4 linked regions of the Homo sapiens genome follow. The protein of the gene in region 1 interacts with the protein of each later gene in a biochemical or structural test. Each region holds a gene or a part of one and is shown in the gene's direction. Other genes may lie near its edges.

Region 1 (7,083 bases):
TTTTAGTAGAGAAGGGGTTTTGCCACGTTGGCCAGGCTGGTCTCGAACTGACTTCAGGTGATCTACCCACCTCGACCTCCCAAAGTGCTGGGATTACAGGCGTAAGCCACCACGCCAGTTGTTTGACTTAGGTATTTCTTGAGTGACTTTGGTGGTTCAAAGAAATTGTCCATTTCATTTCCACTGTTGAATATGTTGGTGCTAAAGTGTCTTAATATCTCCTTATATTCCTCATAATATCTGTAGAATATGTAGTGAGGTCATTGATCTCTTCCTAATAGTGATATTTTGCATTCTCCCTCTTTTTTCTCTTTTCTTCAGTCTGACTAGAGGTTTATAAATTTGATTTACCTTCTCAAAGAATCAGCTTCAGGTTGTATTGATTTTCTGCACTTGTTCATTATTATTCATTCTCTTTTTTCTACTTTGGATTTAATTTACTCTTGTTTTTCTAGTTTCTTGAGACGGAAGCAGAGGCTGTTGACCTGAGACCTTTCTTCCTTTTTAGTGAACATTTCACACTGTAATTTGCCTCCCAAGGAGTGCTTTAGGAACACCATGCAAACTGTATTTTACTGCCTTTTTGTTTTCATTCAATTCAAAATTCTTTCTAATTTCTCCTTTGGCCTCTTCTATTTCCTATATCTTATTTAGAAGAATGTTATTTAGTATCCAAATATTTGGGAGGATTTTCTAGACACCTTTCTTTTCTTGATTTCTAATTAATTCCATTGTTGTCCGAGAACATACTTTGTATGGCTTGAATCTGTAGAAGGTTGTTATTTTAGTGGCCACGTTAGAATTTGTAGTAAATCTCTTCCATGATCACAGTTTACCTTCCGGCAACATGAAGCCACTGCTGTCTGCTACAAGAGTCTCATGGCCGTGTTCTCCATTTCTCTCCTCCTGGCCTTTGTGAGATGGTGGTCATGTTAGAGACCTCACAGATGGGATCCATGCCTGCCTGGTCTGTCTCCTGTGTACAGCATCACCTGTCCTAGAACAGCCGGCACCCTGAGGGTGGAGACCTGGGCTGAGGCACAGAGGTAGCTTGTGTGGGAGGGAAACTTCTGGAAGGGGGATGTGATGGTTAATACTGAGTGTCAACTTGATTGGATTGAAGGATGCTAAGTATTGATCCTGGGTGTTTCTGAGAGGATGCTGCCAAAGGAGATGAACATTTGAGTCAGTGGGCTGGGGAAGGCAGACCCACCCTCAGTCTGGTGGGCACCATCTCATCAGCTGTCAGTGAATAAAAAGCAGGCAGAAAAATGTGAAAAAGCGAGATGGGCCTAGCCTCCCAGCCTACATCTTTCTCCTGTGCTGGATCCTTCCTGCCCTCGAACATCAGACTCCGAGTTCTTCAGTTTTGAGACTCAGATTGGGTCTCCTTGCTCCTCAGCTTGCACACAGCCTATTGTGATCCTGTAAGTTAATACTTAATAAACTCCCCTTTATATATGCCTATCCTATTAGTTCTGTCCCTGATTAATACAGGGGGGTAGAAAAGGCCCTAGTTGGGACCCGAGGAACTAGGGCTGGAAGCCAGCTCAGCCATGAACTGGCCATGTGCCTTGCGGGAACTTCTGCCCTTCTCTGAGCCTCAGCCTCCTTGCCCGTAACAAGTGACGTGACCCCTGGAAGCACCCCTGACCAACATTTACACTGGTGCCTGTGAGGGCTTTGGTTTTTGTGTGTTATCATCTGTGGGCAATTTTGAGTTCACCAAAGACTTTTCAGGTCTTCCTTTGCTTTCTAAAACGAATTCAAATTTAATTATGTCCATTTATTAAAAATCTTACTTTAGGGCCTGGCGCGGTGGCTCACACCTGTAATCCCAACACTTAGGGAGGCCAAGGTGGGTGGATCACCTGAGGTCGGGAGTTCGAGACCAGCCTGACCAACATGGGGAAACCCCATCTCTACTAAAAATACAAAAAGTAGCCGGACATGGTAGTGCCTGCCTGTAATTCCAGCTACTCGGGAGGCTGAGGCAGGAGAATCGCTTGAACCCAGGAGGCGGAGGTTGTGGTGAGCCAAGATTGTGCCATTACACTCCAGCCCGGGCAACAAGAGCGAAACTCCGTCTCAAAAAAAAAAGTGTACTTTAAAAGCTGCATTCTGCCTTCATTTTAAAAGTGTGACTTATAAACCTTATTATTCTATCTTTTAATAACCACCTATAAGGAGCCTGTGAATAATTCTTGGTCCATTCCTTAACTTAGCCAACTAAACACCTTCAAACATTGTTACTGCATTTATACATTTAATAGAACCACATTTATCCTTTAGTACCTTGTCTAACTTTAAAAAATCCTTCTGAATATGAACTGCTAGAAATGTAATCATTTAAATTCAGCATGTGATAAACTCAGAGTTCCAATAAAGTGATTCAATAGTTTATATGAATTCGGTAAGTTTTCCGCATAAATGCACTCTGCCAAATCAATTACTCAATTGGCCATTTTCTGTTGAAGTTATCCTGCACCCACTCCAATAGGCCAGATTCTCTTGATTATTGCAAGTACTTTAAATAGCATATTTTTTTAGATTTCTGAACACTAAAATATTAATATAATGTCTTTGGGCTTTTAAAGCCTTCTAGACTTAATTTTAAGTCATCTAGGTTTGAAAGATGCTTCTATTAGGAAGGACAAATAGCATGCAGTAAAGGAACCTGCCTAAGGACTCGGAATTTTGGCTGCTGGGGTTTCACTGGGCAGCTCTGGGGACCTGGCTCCTCTGCAGGTGACTTCAGGACTTTGAGGAAGATGCCCCCAAGCCATCTTTCTAGGTTCCATATCTGCATCTCCATGGAGCCTGTGTCTTCCCCAGGTTCATCCCTGGACCTCATCTGCATCTGGCATAGCCTTAATTAAGTCTTGAGAGGTCTGCCCTAAACACCACGGAACCCGAGGGGGGTCTTAACTAGTCATAGTCTCAGGACCACACATCTCCATGGGCATTGAAGGAAAATCCGATGGGATTTTGTTTCTCGCGTGGCTTTGCTGGGCTGGGGTCACAGTTTAAAATCCTTCTACTGATCTTGCCAAGGAAGAAGGCACCTCGGCATCCCGATGGCAGCAGGTGGCAGGGTGCGGTGGTGGTAGTGGGAGGTGCAGTGCTGGTTCCGTCTCTGGGGGCTTTAGGTATACGGCCTCTGGGGCCCCACCTGCTACTGTCTCTGTCTCTAACCTGGCTCAGTCCAAGGCGAGAGTGCACCTTCAGGCCAGCTCTTCTCCAAAAGGCGAACACAACCACTGAAGTAAGTCCACAGCCATCCTACAGGTGGGATGTCTGGCCTCAGGGCTCAGGGGGTTCCCTGGGCCCTAGGAGTGAAATTCACCTACTCTCATCCTCCCTACAGGCTAAGCCCCTGCATTCACACTCAAGGTCTCCCCTTCAGATGTGTACCTGGGTCATAGTCCCCCAGGCTCCCCACTCTTCTCTCCTTTCCCTCCTGTTCATGTGCCCCTGTGCTCTACATACTGCCCCAGGAAACAGTGGACACACACGCATTTTCCTCTCCTTTTCACCCTGGCAGCCTGCCTGGACCTCATAGTGGCAGTTTCCAAGCCTCCTGAGGAGAGTCCCAAGTCTGCTCATGATGTGGTGAGGGTTACTGTGTAAGGCCCACACCAGTGGCCCATGACCAGCCCTGGCCATGAGGACTCTAGGTATTCGGATAAGGGAGAGAGACCTCTTTGAAGCAGAACATCTTTAGCAAACCCTTCCTTGTTCCCCGTTCTCAGCTCATGGTGACATCTGCTCACCGCTGAACAAAGGTGGGAGGATGGGCCTGGGCTCTTTGCCCAAGGCCACAAGCAAGTCAGCCTGTTCCCTGGAAGGAGACCGTCCCCCTGCAGGGATGACAGTCGCCATGGGATCCCCAAGGGGCGGGGGGTAGGGAGCAGCCCTGGAGATGATCTCGCACCTCCTGCTGGCGTCACCAAGCCCGCGGAGAGGAAGCGGCTGTCACTCGGAAGATGAGAAATTGGAGTCTGAGGGAGGCTGGCTTCTCTAGCCCTATAAGAGGGCAGGCACCTTTTGAAGCAAAGACCAGAAGAGATGGAGCTGGACAGAGCTGTGGGGGTCCTGGGCGCTGCCACCCTGCTGCTCTCTTTCCTGGGCATGGCCTGGGCTCTCCAGGCGGCAGACACCTGTCCAGGTAAGGGCACTCCAGGGCCTCCTCCTGGAAACTTCTCGTCCCTGAAAGCTGGCAGCTTCGTGATTGGTGGCTTCCTGGCTTCCAGGCCTTGCACCAGGCCGTGTGGAGCATCGTCTAACGAGACAGCAGCTCTGCATGCCTCATCTTATGTGAACAAACGCAGAGGCCCCGAATGGATGTGGCATCTCAGAGACGGAGCTTCCTCTGCTTGCCCTCCCATAATGGAAACCGAGGCAGGTTTCCAGTCTCCCTGGGCCACATGTCCCCCTCTAAGCGTAAAAAGCGTAGTCATGGTGTTGTGTGGGGAGGTGAGGCTTGTGGTGCCAGCTGGGTAGACACCAGTCAGATATTCTGCCATGGTCGCCATCACAGAGAGACAGGGTGTGAGGTGGGGATAAGCACCCGGAAAGACAGGGTGTCAGGCGGGGATGAGCACTGCAGGACCTTTCCATCCAGGACCTGCTGGGCTCTGGAGATGGCAGTTCCCATGGTGTCCCTGATGCGGCACAATAAGGGTGGCATTGTCCCCGTGAGTTCTGGACCTCCTTCGGGGCTCCCGAGGGGACACTCGGGTGCCAAACCATGGGCTCCGGCGCATGCGAGGGCAGGTTGAAAATGCAGGTTCTGGAGTCAGGTCCTGACTCCGTCTACCCGGGGCTGGGATGCAGGGTCAGGAATTTGTGATGCTCCTGATGCTTGCAGAGATTCGTGTCAGGATTTCTGGAATGCATGTGAGACACAGAGCTCTGCGGTGTGCTGTGACTAGCATCGCATTCAAGGAGCAATCCGTGGCGTGAAGTGTGACACAGGCCAGGAACAGCGGGGATTCGCTTGGAAACTCCTAGTGGCTCGTTGTGGAGTGGTGGGGTTAGGGTGGCATTATTTTCTTCCTTAAATACTTCTAGAGTTTCTAAATGATCAAATAATAGCACGTGTTATTTTTGTAACACACTCACTTGAATTTGAGTTATCTAATTAAAAACAACAAGCTGCATTCCAGCTCTAGTTTCGCACCAACTTGTTCAGTGTCCTTGAAGGACGCCTCCCTCTGTGGAGGAACAAGGTGGACCCACAGGAGCCCATCCACTCTCAGATCTGCTCCAAGATCAGGCGTGGGAGTTGCAATGGTAGCCTCTCTCCCTGTGTCCTTCTCACCCGATATTGATTACAATGATATGATAGATGAGAACAGACGAGATTAGGATGCTGTCTTAAATGGTAGGAGCTGAAATGAACCTGCACCCCTCGGTAGGTAAGGGAACAGAGGCTCAGAGGGGTTAAGGGACTTGTTTCAGGACACACAGTACTGAGGAAGTAAGGTTTGCCTTCAGGCAGGGTAGCCTCCAAGGCCAGGGTTCTGCCCCAAATCACCTTTCTGCCTGACCAGTGCCCAAGAGGTGAGGACAGACCAAGTGCCCACCAGGGCAGGAAAACCTCCCTTCCAGGTGACCCTCCAGCTGAGGGAGGTGGCTGTGGCTATAGCCATCTGCCCAGTCCTGATGTCACCAAGATGGCAGATGCCTTTCAGTTGAGTGGTATATCTATGGCTCAGTGGAGTCTTCAGGCCCAGGTGACACTGAGTGGCCACCTGTGTTTTTCTGCAGAGGTGAAGATGGTGGGCCTGGAGGGCTCTGACAAGCTCACCATTCTCCGAGGCTGTCCGGGGCTGCCTGGGGCCCCTGGGCCCAAGGGAGAGGCAGGCACCAATGGAAAGAGAGGTAGGTGCAGGCATGGCTGGGGGCACTGGCTCTTGCTCTTTTTGAAACCAGATGCTGAGTTGGGCAACACCCCCACCATGGTTCCTAGATCGAGAGCTGGGTCAGGCCCCTGCAAGAGCCAGGAAAAGAACTGACTCCCAGGGCCCAACAGGGTTCTGACATGGAGGGAGCGTCTTTCTTAGCTATTTCATGAGCTCACATTTGGACATGCTTCTGTAGCTCTGTCTCCTAGTCCTTGATCCAATACCAGCTTTGCTCGGCCGCTGGCACGACTTCAAGCTCTGTGTCCCTCCACCTTCCCACCTCAACACGGAGGCCATGACACTCTTCTCCACCTGTCTCAGATGAGGAAACTGAGGCTCAGAGAGTCCAGGGATTTCGCTCTGTTCTCACACTTGGAAGGAAAAGAGCCGAGATTCTACCCATGGTCTCTGGATTTCCAGCTCCCGGCCCCTGAGTGAACAGGAGAGCCCCGTGAGGCCTGGGTCCTGGATCTAGAACCTTCTGGTGCAGGATGGGCAAGCCTGGGCGGGGCCACAGTCACGTCGTAGCACGAGCAGGGTCATGGTCATGATTGGAAATGACAGCCGCCAGCTCCAGGGTGGGCCCTTTGATCCTGGGCTGGGCAGTTTTCCTCAAGTCAGTGTCTTTGGAAATTGCAGGAGAACGTGGCCCCCCTGGACCTCCTGGGAAGGCAGGACCACCTGGGCCCAACGGTAAGGAGGGGACAAGAGTGAGAAGCGGCTTCAAGGCCCTTCCAGACCTGGCTGCAGAGGAACGTGAGGCGGGTCTTCTGGGGCTGCCACGCTGTCCTCGCCAGAGCCAACGCCTGCCCAGGCAGGGCTCTTGGGGCTTAGTCCAGGGCAGGGGTCTCAGTGTGGGGGAAGGGGTCTCAATGTGTGTGTGGGTTCTCAGTCTGGGGGAGTGGGGTTATCAGTGTGGGAGCTGGTCTCAATGTGTGTAGGGGGTCTCAGTTTGGGGGAGTGGGGTCATCAGTGTGGGGGCAGGGTTCTCAATGTCGGAGGAGGGGTTCTTGGTGGTGTAGGGAGAGGTTCTTGGGGTGTGTGTTGGGGGAGGGGTTCCCGGTGGGCAGGCTGTGGGGAGGTGTTATCAGCAGGGAGGGAGGAGCTGTCAATATGGGGGAGAGATTCTGGGATGGGGGAGAGGTTCTGATTATTCGGGGAGGGACTTTTAGTG
Region 2 (7,048 bases), on another chromosome or scaffold:
CCAGAGAGGTCGAGGCTGCAATGAGCCATGATCGTGCCACTGCACTCCAGTCTGGGCAGCAGAGCAAGACCTTGTCTCAAAAAAAATGCTATGCTGTATGCTTTATTATATTAATATCCAATAGAATAAAGACACATGCCTTCTATATAGAGAGAACTAAATTAATAATGGTGAGATAACAGTTAAATTCTCATTTAGCAGGAGAAATAAAAACATAGACTATAGGCTAGGCACAGTGGCTCATACCTGTAATCCCAGCACATTAGGAGGCTGAGGTGGGCAGATCACTTGAGGTCAGTAGTTTGAGACCACCCTGGCCAACATAATGAAACCCCGCCTCTACTAAAAATACAAAAGTTAGCCGAGTTTGGTGGCGCATGCCTGAAATCCCAGCTACTCAGGAGGCTGAGGCAGGAAAATCGCTTGAACCTGGGAGGCAAGGGCTGCAGTGAGCCAAGATCACGCCACTGCACTCCAGCCTGGGGAACAGAGTGAGGATCTGTTAAAAAAAAAAAAAAAAAGTGGACTCTAATAATACATGGACACATTTAGTGAAATAAACTTAACTGAGTAGAGCAGAACTTATAATATTTTAAAACTGTAAGAACATGTCTGTACATTAGCAAATAGTAGATGAGAATAGTATTTTCAATATTTACTTCTGGTAATTTGGAATTAAAAAAAAAACTTTTGGGAAAATTTACAATAAAGTATGATTTTAACAAACCAGGCTAGGCGTGGTGGCTCACGCTTATAATCCCAGCACTTTGAAAAGCAGAGGCATGCAGATTGCTTGAGGCCAGGAGTTCAAGACTAGCCTGCCCAACATGGCCAAACCCCATCTCTACTAAAAATACAAAAATAAACCAGACATGGTAGTGCATGCCTGTGATCCCAGCTACTCGGGAAGTTGAGGTAGGAGGATTGCTTGACCTGGGAAGTGGAGGTTGCAGTGAGCCATGATCGTGCCACTACACTCCAGCCTGGGTGACAGAGCAAGACTCTGTCCCAAGGTTTTGTTTTGGTTAACTTGCTGTCCCTTTTTCCAGGAATTCCTTGTGGGCTACCCCCCACCATCGCCAATGGAGATTTCATTAGCACCAACAGAGAGAATTTTCACTATGGATCAGTGGTGACCTACCGCTGCAATCCTGGAAGCGGAGGGAGAAAGGTGTTTGAGCTTGTGGGTGAGCCCTCCATATACTGCACCAGCAATGACGATCAAGTGGGCATCTGGAGCGGCCCGGCCCCTCAGTGCATTATACCTAACAAATGCACGCCTCCAAATGTGGAAAATGGAATATTGGTATCTGACAACAGAAGCTTATTTTCCTTAAATGAAGTTGTGGAGTTTAGGTGTCAGCCTGGCTTTGTCATGAAAGGACCCCGCCGTGTGAAGTGCCAGGCCCTGAACAAATGGGAGCCGGAGCTACCAAGCTGCTCCAGGGGTGAGTCTGACTGAGGCCTAGTAGGGCCCTGCAAGTGACATGCGTTGCTGTTGGATCAGGAGATTAGTATTTGTTCACGGGGAGGGATGTGTGCTGAGCAGGGTCGAGGAGCAAATTTTCTAAGTAGTGAACATGAAATTCAGGTGTGTAGACATGCACATGTGCTGAAATTGAGAAGCAAAGCTCAACCTGGGCAAGGGATATGATGTTTCTTTGGGGTTCTTATAAACAGATCTATCAATTACCTTTGAGTATAATAATGTTTGATACAAAATGAGTGATTCCTCTGCCCAGGCACTATAATACAGGCTACATGTGAATTTTAATCCTGAAAACAAAGTTATTAGGTAGTTCCCAGTTGTTCTATGTTTGTCTGTTTTGTTTTGCTTGAGATACTGTCTTGATCTGTCACTCAGGTTGGACTGCAGTGGTGCCATCATGGCATACTTCACCCTCCACCTCCCTGACTCAAGCAAGTCTCCTGCCTGAGCCTCCCAAGTAGCTGGGAATGTAGGTGCATGCCACCATGCCTGGCTAAGTTTTTTATATTTTTTTTGTAGGGACAGAGTCTCACCATGCTGCCCAGGCTGGTCTCAAACTCCTCAGCTCAAGCACCCACCCACCTTGGGCTCCCAAAGTGCTGGGATTATAGGCATGAGCCACTGTGCCCGGCCTCTATGTTTTACAGAGAATATGTGCCTTAGACACATCAGATAACATTCTGAGACAGTAACTTGCAGACAAAACTGGATTGCAAGTCCACCTCACTCCAGAGCCTTGGCTTTGCTCATCAGCATTCAGTCATGAAATCAAAACTTACTCTAGATACTTTCAAGGAGGGAGGGATTTCATGCAGGTTGTATTAGTCTGTTCTCACATTCCTATAAAAAACTACTTGAGCCTGGGTAATTTATAAAGAAAAGATGTTTAATTGACTCAGAGTTCTGTAGGCTGTACAGGAGGCATGGCTGGGAAAGTTACAATCATGGTGGAAGGCAAAGAGGAAGCACGCATATCTTCATATGCTTGGCAGGAGAGAGAGAGAGAGCAAGGCAGAGGTGTTACAGACTTTGAAACAAGCAGATCTTGACAGAACTCTATCACAAGACAGCACTAGGGTGATGGTGCTCAACCATTAGAAACCACCTCCATGATCCAGTCACCTCCCACCAGGCTCCTTCTCCAACACTGGGAATTACCATTTGACATGAGATTTGGGAGGGGACATAGAGCCAAACCATATCGCAGCTAATAGGTCACAAAAATGTTAGAAGGGCAGGAAAAGCAATAGGACAAAGGCAAAGTTACGAGAGATCAGGGAGCTGCTGTGGCTCCCAGTCTACAGCACAGGAGCCTGGAGTGATGGTGAAATGGCCAGCCCCTCCCACTGAGCAGGCAGCTCCCTGTAAGCTGCTAATACTGCAGGAGCCACCATTGCTGCCAGAATGCAGCTGATATTGCTGGAGCCAAAGTCATTGGCATCGTTACAATTGAAGCTGTAGCTACTCACTGAAGCCATCTATACTGCCACTGCCTGAGCCACTTCTAGAAGTAGAACAGATTCTGCCATCATCCTGCTTTTTAATTTGGTATATATGCCTCCAATTGGCAGAACCTAACCAGAGCCTAGCTATCAAGGAAGATGAACGATTTATTTTTAAGGCCTCCATTGTTAGCTGTCAAAAGACAGTGCAGAAATGTGAGGCTGGGGGCCAACAGAAATTTAACCAGCACAGCACCTCAATATTACATCACCAGGCATTGATTAGTCCAGGGAAACACTGGGTGATGAGCCCTGAAAATGGACATTACAGCATCAGAGTATTTACAAACTCCTTAAAGAAGTCATTTTTCTATTCCAATCCCCCATTTGATGCTTGAGAAAGCTGAAGTCCAGAAAAGGGAACTGATCTGCTCAAAGACAAACTGAAATTACTTTTTCCATTTTATAACAGTTTTATGTAATTTATTTGAGATCCAAATGTGTTTTGATTTCCCAAGATCAGATCAACTACATTAAGAGAGAGCCTGAGATGCCGTTACAATATGTTGTGTGAAATTACACTCTCATTATGGTGACAGTAGGTCTTTCAGATTTTGTTCGACAGTTTCCCACCTTCTCACTGAAGTGAAATGAATGACTAGGCAGCACCTTGCTACATAGCATGAAGAGAGGAGACCCATAGTTCTTTACCACCCTATGTCAGGTGGCCGCTGAGAGAAGACTTGAAAGGAGATGAGCATAGATGTATGGACGCTCTTTGTTGCACCAGTGTGATAGGTGATGGAGGGACCTATTAGATGGGACATGGGCAGGGGCACTCCTTTATTGCTTAAAATGCAAGACTAAATTGGTGATGCCTTTCTAGAAAGGAAGTATGAAGATACAAAAATCCATCATTCCTCCCAATTTTGTACTGGGTGAACAGTAATTGGAAGCATTCTAGAAGGAACTGTCCATTGTGAAATCTTAGTTGCATACTTTAGATGAAAAACAATGAATTGGAGATACCTCTGTTTTAGTCACAGTTGTGCCATGTGTCAGTTCTATGACTGATGGCAAGACATCTTCCTTGCCCCGTGTATTTAGTTTATCAATGTAATAAGGCTGTTATTCTAACTTTATTATTATATATAGATTCGTAATTATTATTCCCTTGGCCAGTTTAACAGTGAGAAAAAAGTTGTTTTCACACAATTAGCTGTACTTTGTTTCTCTCTCCCCAGTATGTCAGCCACCTCCAGATGTCCTGCATGCTGAGCGTACCCAAAGGGACAAGGACAACTTTTCACCCGGGCAGGAAGTGTTCTACAGCTGTGAGCCCGGCTACGACCTCAGAGGGGCTGCGTCTATGCGCTGCACACCCCAGGGAGACTGGAGCCCTGCAGCCCCCACATGTGAAGGTGACTAGACTCTTATCTGGCTTGATATTTTTAGCTTGCGTCTTTATTCTCCACATGCCAGTGATTTCTGTTCGTTTTTCTTTATCTCCAGTGAAATCCTGTGATGACTTCATGGGCCAACTTCTTAATGGCCGTGTGCTATTTCCAGTAAATCTCCAGCTTGGAGCAAAAGTGGATTTTGTTTGTGATGAAGGGTGAGTATGAGCTTGCCTGACCTGCTGGACATTGAAATTGGGGTTGGGAATCAGTCTAAAAAGGGGAGATTTGGTGTGGCACACACACACACACCTTCAGAGAGATGAACTTTCGAAAGTATACCTAGGAAGAAAGGAAAGAAACATATAGAACTAATAACATGAGATATGAAGAGGAAACTGGAACATATATTAACTGGCAAGTTCAAAGGCAAGTATAACTACTGGTTATGAATATATAAGTAACACATTAAGCAAAAAATATCAGCCAGAAACGGTGGCTCACCCCTGTAATCCTAGCACCTTTGGGAGGTTGAGGCGGGCAGATCACCTGAGGTCAGGAGTTGGAGACCAGCCTGGACAACATGATGAAACCCTGTCTCTACTAAAAATACAAAAGTTAGCTGGGTGTGGTGGCATGTGCCTGTAATCCCAGCTATTCCGGAGGCTGAGGCACCAGAATCACTTGAACCTGGGAGGTGGAGTTTGCAGTGAGCCGAGATGGCACCATTGCACTCCAGCGTGGACAATAAGAGTGAAACTCCATCTCAGGAAAAAAAATCATATTTTACAAGCAAAAAGGAATATGAGTAATTTAGAGAGTCCCAGGAAAAAACTGGAAGTAACAAAAGCTTATTATAAAAAGCTAGGATCATTTGTGAATCATTTCAGTAAATTCTTTAAATCGTCAACAGTGAAATTTGTAATAGGACTGAAAATGTAAAAATCAGCATTTTTTAAAAAAATCCAGCCATATATCATCTGGTTAATCATGGGCTCTGGGCTCTGAGCTGGGGTCCTGATGGCTGCTGTTAATATTTCCAGCAAGCTCATTACCTTGTTTATGTCCACCTAGTGCTCTTCGCAGGGTGCACATCTCTACACGGGAGCTGACCGGCATGGGCAACAAAGCACCTGATCCCAAAATGTAACACAGAATCTTGGCAGCCTCCAAATGCCAGCACCCAGTAAGAGTTAGGAGGGCATCGGGGTCCAGCAGACATTGAGAATTTTCGACAATTGCATGCAAAAAATAAGTCCTCTCTTCTTTCCTTTTTCCCCTAGAATATTCATGCTTACTCTTCAGCAGCCCAAATTGCCCTTTTGAGCCTTCTTCACGCCATCACAGATGTGGAGATGAAAGGACAGTCTGTTCTCTCGCCAGCTATTTCCCACTTTTCCACTCCAAACTGGGAGCTGTTTTACTTGCTGTTCCAGGGTCAGAGTTAGGAAGGCATTACATTAGAAGACTGGGTTTCTAATAACAACAATGAGTGATTTATCAGGTTATCATGGAGTAATCAGTGAAACTCCAAGCCTGGGTCCTGGGTCAAGGGGATGGCGCCTATGTCATGACCACCTTTTTCAGTTCAAGCAGGACTATCATGTGACCAAGCTACTGCATTTTGCCATTCTATATTGTTCCCTTCTGGAGGCTGTGATTTTTCCAGAATAAGGTAGCCTGTGCAACTCTGCCACCTGCTGGCCTAAGGTCCTAATAATCCTGAAATTGGGGCTGGGCCTTAGATTGTGAACTAAGGGTTCTCTTGGCTGAAACAGCTCACACTATTCACTCCTATTTTCTTCTTTAGATTTCAATTAAAAGGCAGCTCTGCTAGTTACTGTGTCTTGGCTGGAATGGAAAGCCTTTGGAATAGCAGTGTTCCAGTGTGTGAACGTGAGTAGCAGGAGTAACATTTCAGGCCAGTCTCTCCCTTCATCTGTTCAGTATTTGACCCATGACCTCCCCTAATGTGGTTCTTCAATTTTCTAGTTTGAATTATTGATTTGAAAATTGCTTATTTTAATAATGTTTGGTTGTGAATCAAATGTATACATCACCTGTCTTTGGAACCATCTGATCTGTCTCTGTCCTTCTGTATTCTGTGTTCTAGTGCGATAAATCCTATGGTAGCATGATTCTAGGTCAGGAGAGATTAGATAATGTGAAGCCTTAACAATTTGCTTTCTTTCTCTCTTTCTTTTGTTTCTTTTTTCTCTTCCTTCCTTTCTTCAGTTCTTTCTTCCCTTCTCTTTCTCTCCCCTTTCTTCCTTCCTTCCTCCTTCTTTCTTTTCCATTTTGTTCTTCCATCAGGTGCAGTCTACAATTTTTGTATATATTTGATAATACACAAATATTAAACATGCCTTTATTTAATCAATATTTATTGATCACATACTTTGTGCCTGATGTTCATCTAGCCACAGGAGTTATATCAGTGAACAAGATGAATGAATTCCCTGTCCCCATGTTGTTTCCACTCAGTTGGGGAAAGGGACAAGAAAAAAAATAAATACGATGCTATGAAGATAGTAGAGCAAAGCATTTAGGCATGAGGGAAAAGTGAGGAGCAACATTAGACAAGGCGAGCAGTTTGAGACTCCTTAAATTCTCAAAACATGTACCTAAATAATTTATGCTGAGAGATTCATAAATAATGTCATTTTTAAAAATTTATTATACTTTTAAGTTCTAGGGTACATGTGCACAACGTGCAGGTT
Region 3 (2,752 bases), on another chromosome or scaffold:
GCATATGTGCTTAAACAGAGAAATATGTCTAAAATATTTAAATTCTAATATAAAAAAGAAAGTGACTGTATTATTTAGGGCTGCATTTTAGTTGTAAGAAAAAAGTCCAACTCAAGCAAAAATGGCCCACACAATGGAACAGTCCCAGGACCCACCGGCTTCAGGGGCTGCTCCAGCAATGGCGCCCGGACTCCCTCTTGCTCCGCGTGCCTTCCCATGCACTGGCTTCGTGCTTCAGCGGGGTCTCTGCTGATGGTGCCATTGATGACTGACCTCCATGAGCTTGCTTTACCCCCTGCCAGCTTAAGAACAGTAGTGAAAGAGAACATGTGTGTCCTCCCATTTCCAGTAAAAACTTCAGGCAGGAGCCTCACTGGCTCAGCTTGGTCCCGTTTCCATCTCCCATGCCATCTCCGGCCAGGTGACAGGCTACCATGTCACTGCCTAGGGAAGTTTAGGAAGAGAGTGGCAAAGTGGTGCATTAGAAAGAACATGGCCAGGTCACCCCACCTCCTGGGCGGCAGGCCCAACTCCACCAGTGGTCCACTGTGTGACTTCCCTGCTCCCTCTAAGCAAGTCACTCCTCTCCTCTGGGTCTCTGTTTCCTTACCTATAAAATGAGAACGTTTCTTCATGTGATCTCAAGTCCCTTTTAAAATCGCTAGGATTCTTTGAAAACCTTTTCTATCATCTAGTGCAGAGAACTTGTTGAGGAAGTTGGGATTGGAATGAGCCTCAGCAGATGGGCAAGGTTTGAATAGGAAGAGAAGAGACATTTCAGGAGAAAGAAACAACATAGAGAGACAGATGTAGGTATAAGATATGGTAATAAGCCAAAATGTATTAAGAGTTATAAATGCATGAAATCATCATCAAAGCTTGCTTAGTGATTAACTGCTTATATTTTGCCAGTGCATATGATGTGACATTTTTCTTTAACTCAAACACTAAATTACGATGTCCTCAGGTTATCATAAACCCCATTTGACTTCATGCCTCTACTCTCTCAGGGCTGGCGCTGTGACAACTGCCGCAGACCTGGGGGTGAACCCAGTCCCGAAGGCACTACTGGCCAGTCCTACAACCAGTATTCTCAGAGATACCATCAGAGAACAAACACTGTAAGTGCATTAGCAGCACAAGTGTGTTCCCTCATACTAGACAGTCTCTTTCTACAGGTATCTTTCTTCAGAATGAACCAAGTGTTTTAATTAATTAAAAAAAAAAACAACTCATAAATGACTTAAGTGAAACACTGTATTCCATAATATAGTTTAAGTTATAATTTATGTAACTCTTGAACATCTCCTATTGCCCAGTATGCTGCTAGGTTCTTGAAACTAGGAAGAAATATTATCCTATCTATAAGCAGCTGTCATGAGTCCCCACCTCCCCGCATTTTTTTTTCTGTACACTTTACAGTATTTGCCACTAATTTTTTTTTCCTTCTTCCTTTTTAACAGAATGTTAATTGCCCAATTGAGTGCTTCATGCCTTTAGATGTACAGGCTGACAGAGAAGATTCCCGAGAGTAAATCATCTTTCCAATCCAGAGGAACAAGCATGTCTCTCTGCCAAGATCCATCTAAACTGGAGTGATGTTAGCAGACCCAGCTTAGAGTTCTTCTTTCTTTCTTAAGCCCTTTGCTCTGGAGGAAGTTCTCCAGCTTCAGCTCAACTCACAGCTTCTCCAAGCATCACCCTGGGAGTTTCCTGAGGGTTTTCTCATAAATGAGGGCTGCACATTGCCTGTTCTGCTTCGAAGTATTCAATACCGCTCAGTATTTTAAATGAAGTGATTCTAAGATTTGGTTTGGGATCAATAGGAAAGCATATGCAGCCAACCAAGATGCAAATGTTTTGAAATGATATGACCAAAATTTTAAGTAGGAAAGTCACCCAAACACTTCTGCTTTCACTTAAGTGTCTGGCCCGCAATACTGTAGGAACAAGCATGATCTTGTTACTGTGATATTTTAAATATCCACAGTACTCACTTTTTCCAAATGATCCTAGTAATTGCCTAGAAATATCTTTCTCTTACCTGTTATTTATCAATTTTTCCCAGTATTTTTATACGGAAAAAATTGTATTGAAAACACTTAGTATGCAGTTGATAAGAGGAATTTGGTATAATTATGGTGGGTGATTATTTTTTATACTGTATGTGCCAAAGCTTTACTACTGTGGAAAGACAACTGTTTTAATAAAAGATTTACATTCCACAACTTGAAGTTCATCTATTTGATATAAGACACCTTCGGGGGAAATAATTCCTGTGAATATTCTTTTTCAATTCAGCAAACATTTGAAAATCTATGATGTGCAAGTCTAATTGTTGATTTCAGTACAAGATTTTCTAAATCAGTTGCTACAAAAACTGATTGGTTTTTGTCACTTCATCTCTTCACTAATGGAGATAGCTTTACACTTTCTGCTTTAATAGATTTAAGTGGACCCCAATATTTATTAAAATTGCTAGTTTACCGTTCAGAAGTATAATAGAAATAATCTTTAGTTGCTCTTTTCTAACCATTGTAATTCTTCCCTTCTTCCCTCCACCTTTCCTTCATTGAATAAACCTCTGTTCAAAGAGATTGCCTGCAAGGGAAATAAAAATGACTAAGATATTAAAAGTATTTGAATAGTATAATATGGAGGAGTTTTATCTTAGGGAAACCCCATGGTATGATAACCCCCATCTAACATGTCTTACTTTGGGTCAGCTGACACTTTTGGCATGGCTTGATAA
Region 4 (4,332 bases), on another chromosome or scaffold:
TCACTGCAAGCTCCGCCTCCCGGGTTCACTCCATTCTCCTGCCTCAGCCTCCTGAGTAGCTGGGACTACAGGTGCTCGCCACCTTACCCAGCTAATTTTTTGCATTTTTAGTAGAGACGGGGTTTCACCGTGTTAGCCAGGATGGTCTCGATCTCCTGACCTTGTGATCCACCCGCCTCAGCCTCCCAAAGTGCTGGGATTACAGGTGTGATTGAACACTACTTTATTGAAACTTTATAGAGACTATATCAAATGCCCATGGATATGGTGATTTTTTTCAGTGATTTTTATTTGATTTTAATTAACACAGCTGGAAGAAAAGATGTACCTAGCAATTTCATTTGAAAATAGAATCACTGCCTCATTAAAAATTAATTTTAAAAAATCTTCAAAAGTTCAAATTATTTAGTGAAAAAGTATCAAAGCATGACAGAGCCAGTTTTGTGTTTTAGTATTGTAGTTACTTTTATATGATTATCTGAATGCCAATATTTTATTTGACTATCCCTAACACTAAAGGATAAGGTTCATATTTGTTTAATGTTTTCAGGATAGAGCCTACCCCTGAGCCACTTGTAGGAATCTGACATAGTTTACCACACTTTTACATGGATGTTTGGTTTCTGCAAGTTCTTTCTCTTTACCAGTTATTCTGGAACCATTCTGGGAGTTTGCTTTTCAAAGCTGTCTTATGGCATATCTTCTTTAGGTTGTTATACCTGCCCTAATTTAGGTGTTTTTAAAAAAATACCTACATACACATACACACATATATATACACACACATTTATATACATATATGTATGTATACATACATACATATCCATATGTATATATGTGTGTATATATACGTATACATACATATATATATATTTATGTATATAGATGCAGAGCTCACCTGTTCTTTCCCAGGGACACGTAAAAGGTTTTCGTTTCAGCATCTCCAGCTTCCCAAATGGCTAAGTCGCCTTGAGATGGACAATGGTGGAAACTTACTGAGCTTTCCACCTCAAATTTGAAAGTCCCCCTCCCAAGTGCTCTTTAGCAGAAACATGTTCTCCAACCAGGCCCCTTGAAAGAATGTACTTCTCTTAAAGATTTTCAATTACTGCTTAAATAGTAATTATAAGCATGTGGACAAGGTAGAATTTTTAAACACATTTTTGGTCTATTCAGCTCTTAAGTGCTACATACTTGCTGCTTACAGACTTGCAGAATATTAGGAGCAGAATGGAAGGGCCTTTTTTAGATAACGCTAAAGCCTAGAGGAAATTATGGTGCTCATCCAAAGTTGCATGGCTCATTAGTAGTAACACCATCTGGATTCTAGCCCTCCTAGAGAAATCTAGGGGTTCTATTAATAAGAGGCACTGTAGTGTGCTGATTAAGGGCGTGGCCTCTGTGACCAGACTGCAAAAATTCAAACTCTAGTTTTACTGCTTATCAGCTATGTAAACATAGATAAGTTACTTTTACCTAAGTTTTCTCATCTGTAAAATAGGAATGTAAAAGACTATCTCTTATGGTTGGCATAAGGATTAAAATGACAAACAAAATGATTAGAACAGTATCTGATACATAGTGAATGCCCAATAAGCTTAGTCATCATTATTATACATTGTTGCCTTTCAAAGGTAGTTTTCTAAAAACTCTGCAAAGTTTACAAATATCTGAGAACATTTGGTGTATTAAAATGTATTCTGCAGGCCAGGTGTGGTGGCTCATGCCTGTAATCCCAGCATTTTGGGAGGCTGAGGCAGGCGGATCTTGAGGTCAGGAGTTCAAGACCAACCTGGCCAACATGGTGAAACCCCGTGTCTAAAAAAAAAATACAATAGTTAGCTGGGCGCAGTGGTGTGCACCTGTAGTCCCAGCTACTCCGGAAGCTGAGGCAGGAGAATCGCTTGAACCTGGGAAGCGAAGGTTGCCGTGAGTCGAGATCGCACTACTGCAATCCAGCCTGGGTGACAGAGTGAGACTCTGTCTCAAAAAAAAAAAAAAATGTATTCTGCAATAACATCACTATCCTAGAATTTTGCTGAAAAATGCATGTTGGTAAAGGCTAAATGGAGCGAACTAGGTCTACTGAATTTCACAGGTTTATTATTTTAGGAACTTGGTGGTGGCAAAAAGAGAGAACCAGGTTGGGTTCTGAATTCTTGGAAATTATAGAATTATTGTCTGAAGTTAACTGATAGTGATTCAACTTTTTTAAAAAAAAGCAGTAACAAAGAAAATATGCAAATTGGAAGGGGAGGTAGTTATGGCTTTTATTATTTTGTGGGTTTGGACTAGTTGGCTCTTCTATTTGCGTGCTTTCTCTTCATTTAGATGCTTCATTGGATAAGACAATTGGCTTTCCTTTTTCTCATTTTCTTTGCTCTGCAGAGATTACAGTGGAAGCTTCTTAAGTCGTAATGTAGGGTTTCACATAGCTTTCAATTGTAATAATTAAAATTCTTATGTTAAATAACTAATGCCAGAATAATTCTGAATTAATTTATATTTTCTTTAATATTCTTCTTATTTTCTTGCTACTCTAGGTTGTGAAACAGCTATTTTATTCCCAATGCGTTCCAAGAAGATTTTTGGAAGCGTGCATCCAGTGAGACCAATGAGGCTTGAGTCTTTTAGTGCCTGCATTTGGGTCAAAGCCACAGATGTATTAAACAAAACCATCCTGTTTTCCTATGGCACAAAGAGGAATCCATATGAAATCCAGCTGTATCTCAGCTACCAATCCATAGTGTTTGTGGTGGGTGGAGAGGAGAACAAACTGGTTGCTGAAGCCATGGTTTCCCTGGGAAGGTGGACCCACCTGTGCGGCACCTGGAATTCAGAGGAAGGGCTCACATCCTTGTGGGTAAATGGTGAACTGGCGGCTACCACTGTTGAGATGGCCACAGGTCACATTGTTCCTGAGGGAGGAATCCTGCAGATTGGCCAAGAAAAGAATGGCTGCTGTGTGGGTGGTGGCTTTGATGAAACATTAGCCTTCTCTGGGAGACTCACAGGCTTCAATATCTGGGATAGTGTTCTTAGCAATGAAGAGATAAGAGAGACCGGAGGAGCAGAGTCTTGTCACATCCGGGGGAATATTGTTGGGTGGGGAGTCACAGAGATCCAGCCACATGGAGGAGCTCAGTATGTTTCATAAATGTTGTGAAACTCCACTTGAAGCCAAAGAAAGAAACTCACACTTAAAACACATGCCAGTTGGGAAGGTCTGAAAACTCAGTGCATAATAGGAACACTTGAGACTAATGAAAGAGAGAGTTGAGACCAATCTTTATTTGTACTGGCCAAATACTGAATAAACAGTTGAAGGAAAGACATTGGAAAAAGCTTTTGAGGATAATGTTACTAGACTTTATGCCATGGTGCTTTCAGTTTAATGCTGTGTCTCTGTCAGATAAACTCTCAAATAATTAAAAAGGACTGTATTGTTGAACAGAGGGACAATTGTTTTACTTTTCTTTGGTTAATTTTGTTTTGGCCAGAGATGAATTTTACATTGGAAGAATAACAAAATAAGATTTGTTGTCCATTGTTCATTGTTATTGGTATGTACCTTATTACAAAAAAAAGATGAAAACATATTTATACTACAAGGTGACTTAACAACTATAAATGTAGTTTATGTGTTATAATCGAATGTCACGTTTTTGAGAAGATAGTCATATAAGTTATATTGCAAAAGGGATTTGTATTAATTTAAGACTATTTTTGTAAAGCTCTACTGTAAATAAAATATTTTATAAAACTAGCTCACGTCATTTAATTATAAATTTAAGAGATGTTTTGGAGCAAACTCGTACTTTTCTCTTTTCATTTAAAGTAGGCAATTAGTTTTCAGATACTATTATGTAAACAGCATGGTTAATATTGTTAGGAATGAGCAACTATAGACTTGTTTTAAGTTTGGCTTCCTATAAATCATAAGCAAGAAATATTATCTCTGCCAAGTCAATTCATCTCTGTGGGTTTTAGTTTTCTCAGCTGAGAAATCAAGGAATTGATGAAATAAGAATCTCTAGGACTCTTCCCATTTGACAATTCTAGGAGCTTATACAACTTTCTGTACTGTGTAACATAAAAACAAACACCAAACATGAATTATCACAGTTCCTCAGATACACATGATGCTGCAAGACATGGCTTAGGAATGTTATTTGGGAGACCTAAGAATCTGGAAAAGAACTCCTGCCCTGAAAGCACACCCCATTCTCTTCCTTACTCAGAAGGGAGAGGTCAAGCCCCTTCACACTGTGGATGGGGAGGTAACTTTTCCCCACCACACTAGTATTCTCCTGTAGATTCTATGTGAGGGCT

What was found.
Region 2: the proteins of FCN2 (region 1) and CR1 interact in a biophysical measurement, tested with the Homo sapiens proteins (one study listed by IntAct).
Region 3: the proteins of FCN2 (region 1) and FN1 form a complex in vitro, tested with the Homo sapiens proteins (one study listed by IntAct).
Region 4: the proteins of FCN2 (region 1) and PTX3 interact in a biophysical measurement, tested with the Homo sapiens proteins (2 studies listed by IntAct, with this or other methods).

What each region holds. Positions count from the first base shown.
Region 1 is NC_000009.12:134,876,754-134,883,836, forward strand, and holds the start of FCN2 (ficolin-2 isoform a precursor), read left to right. Parts: upstream 1-4,056; 5' UTR 4,057-4,068; coding exon 4,069-4,168; intron 4,169-5,772; coding exon 5,773-5,886; intron 5,887-6,548; coding exon 6,549-6,602; intron 6,603-7,083.
Region 2 is NC_000001.11:207,541,133-207,548,180, forward strand, and holds part of CR1 (complement receptor type 1 isoform S precursor), read left to right. Parts: intron 1-1,049; coding exon 1,050-1,448; intron 1,449-4,175; coding exon 4,176-4,352; intron 4,353-4,443; coding exon 4,444-4,546; intron 4,547-6,138; coding exon 6,139-6,224; intron 6,225-7,048.
Region 3 is NC_000002.12:215,360,338-215,363,089, reverse strand, and holds the end of FN1 (fibronectin isoform 1 precursor), read left to right. Parts: exon of another isoform or gene 1-437; coding exon of another isoform or gene 438-444; intron 445-1,010; coding exon 1,011-1,121; intron 1,122-1,463; coding exon 1,464-1,535; 3' UTR 1,536-2,225; downstream 2,226-2,752. Other genes in the region: bifunctional purine biosynthesis protein ATIC, read right to left, coding at 438-444. UniProt on the Homo sapiens protein: Fibronectins bind cell surfaces and various compounds including collagen, fibrin, heparin, DNA, and actin. Fibronectins are involved in cell adhesion, cell motility, opsonization, wound healing, and maintenance of cell shape.
Region 4 is NC_000003.12:157,439,823-157,444,154, forward strand, and holds the end of PTX3 (pentraxin-related protein PTX3 precursor), read left to right. Parts: intron 1-2,543; coding exon 2,544-3,157; 3' UTR 3,158-3,811; downstream 3,812-4,332.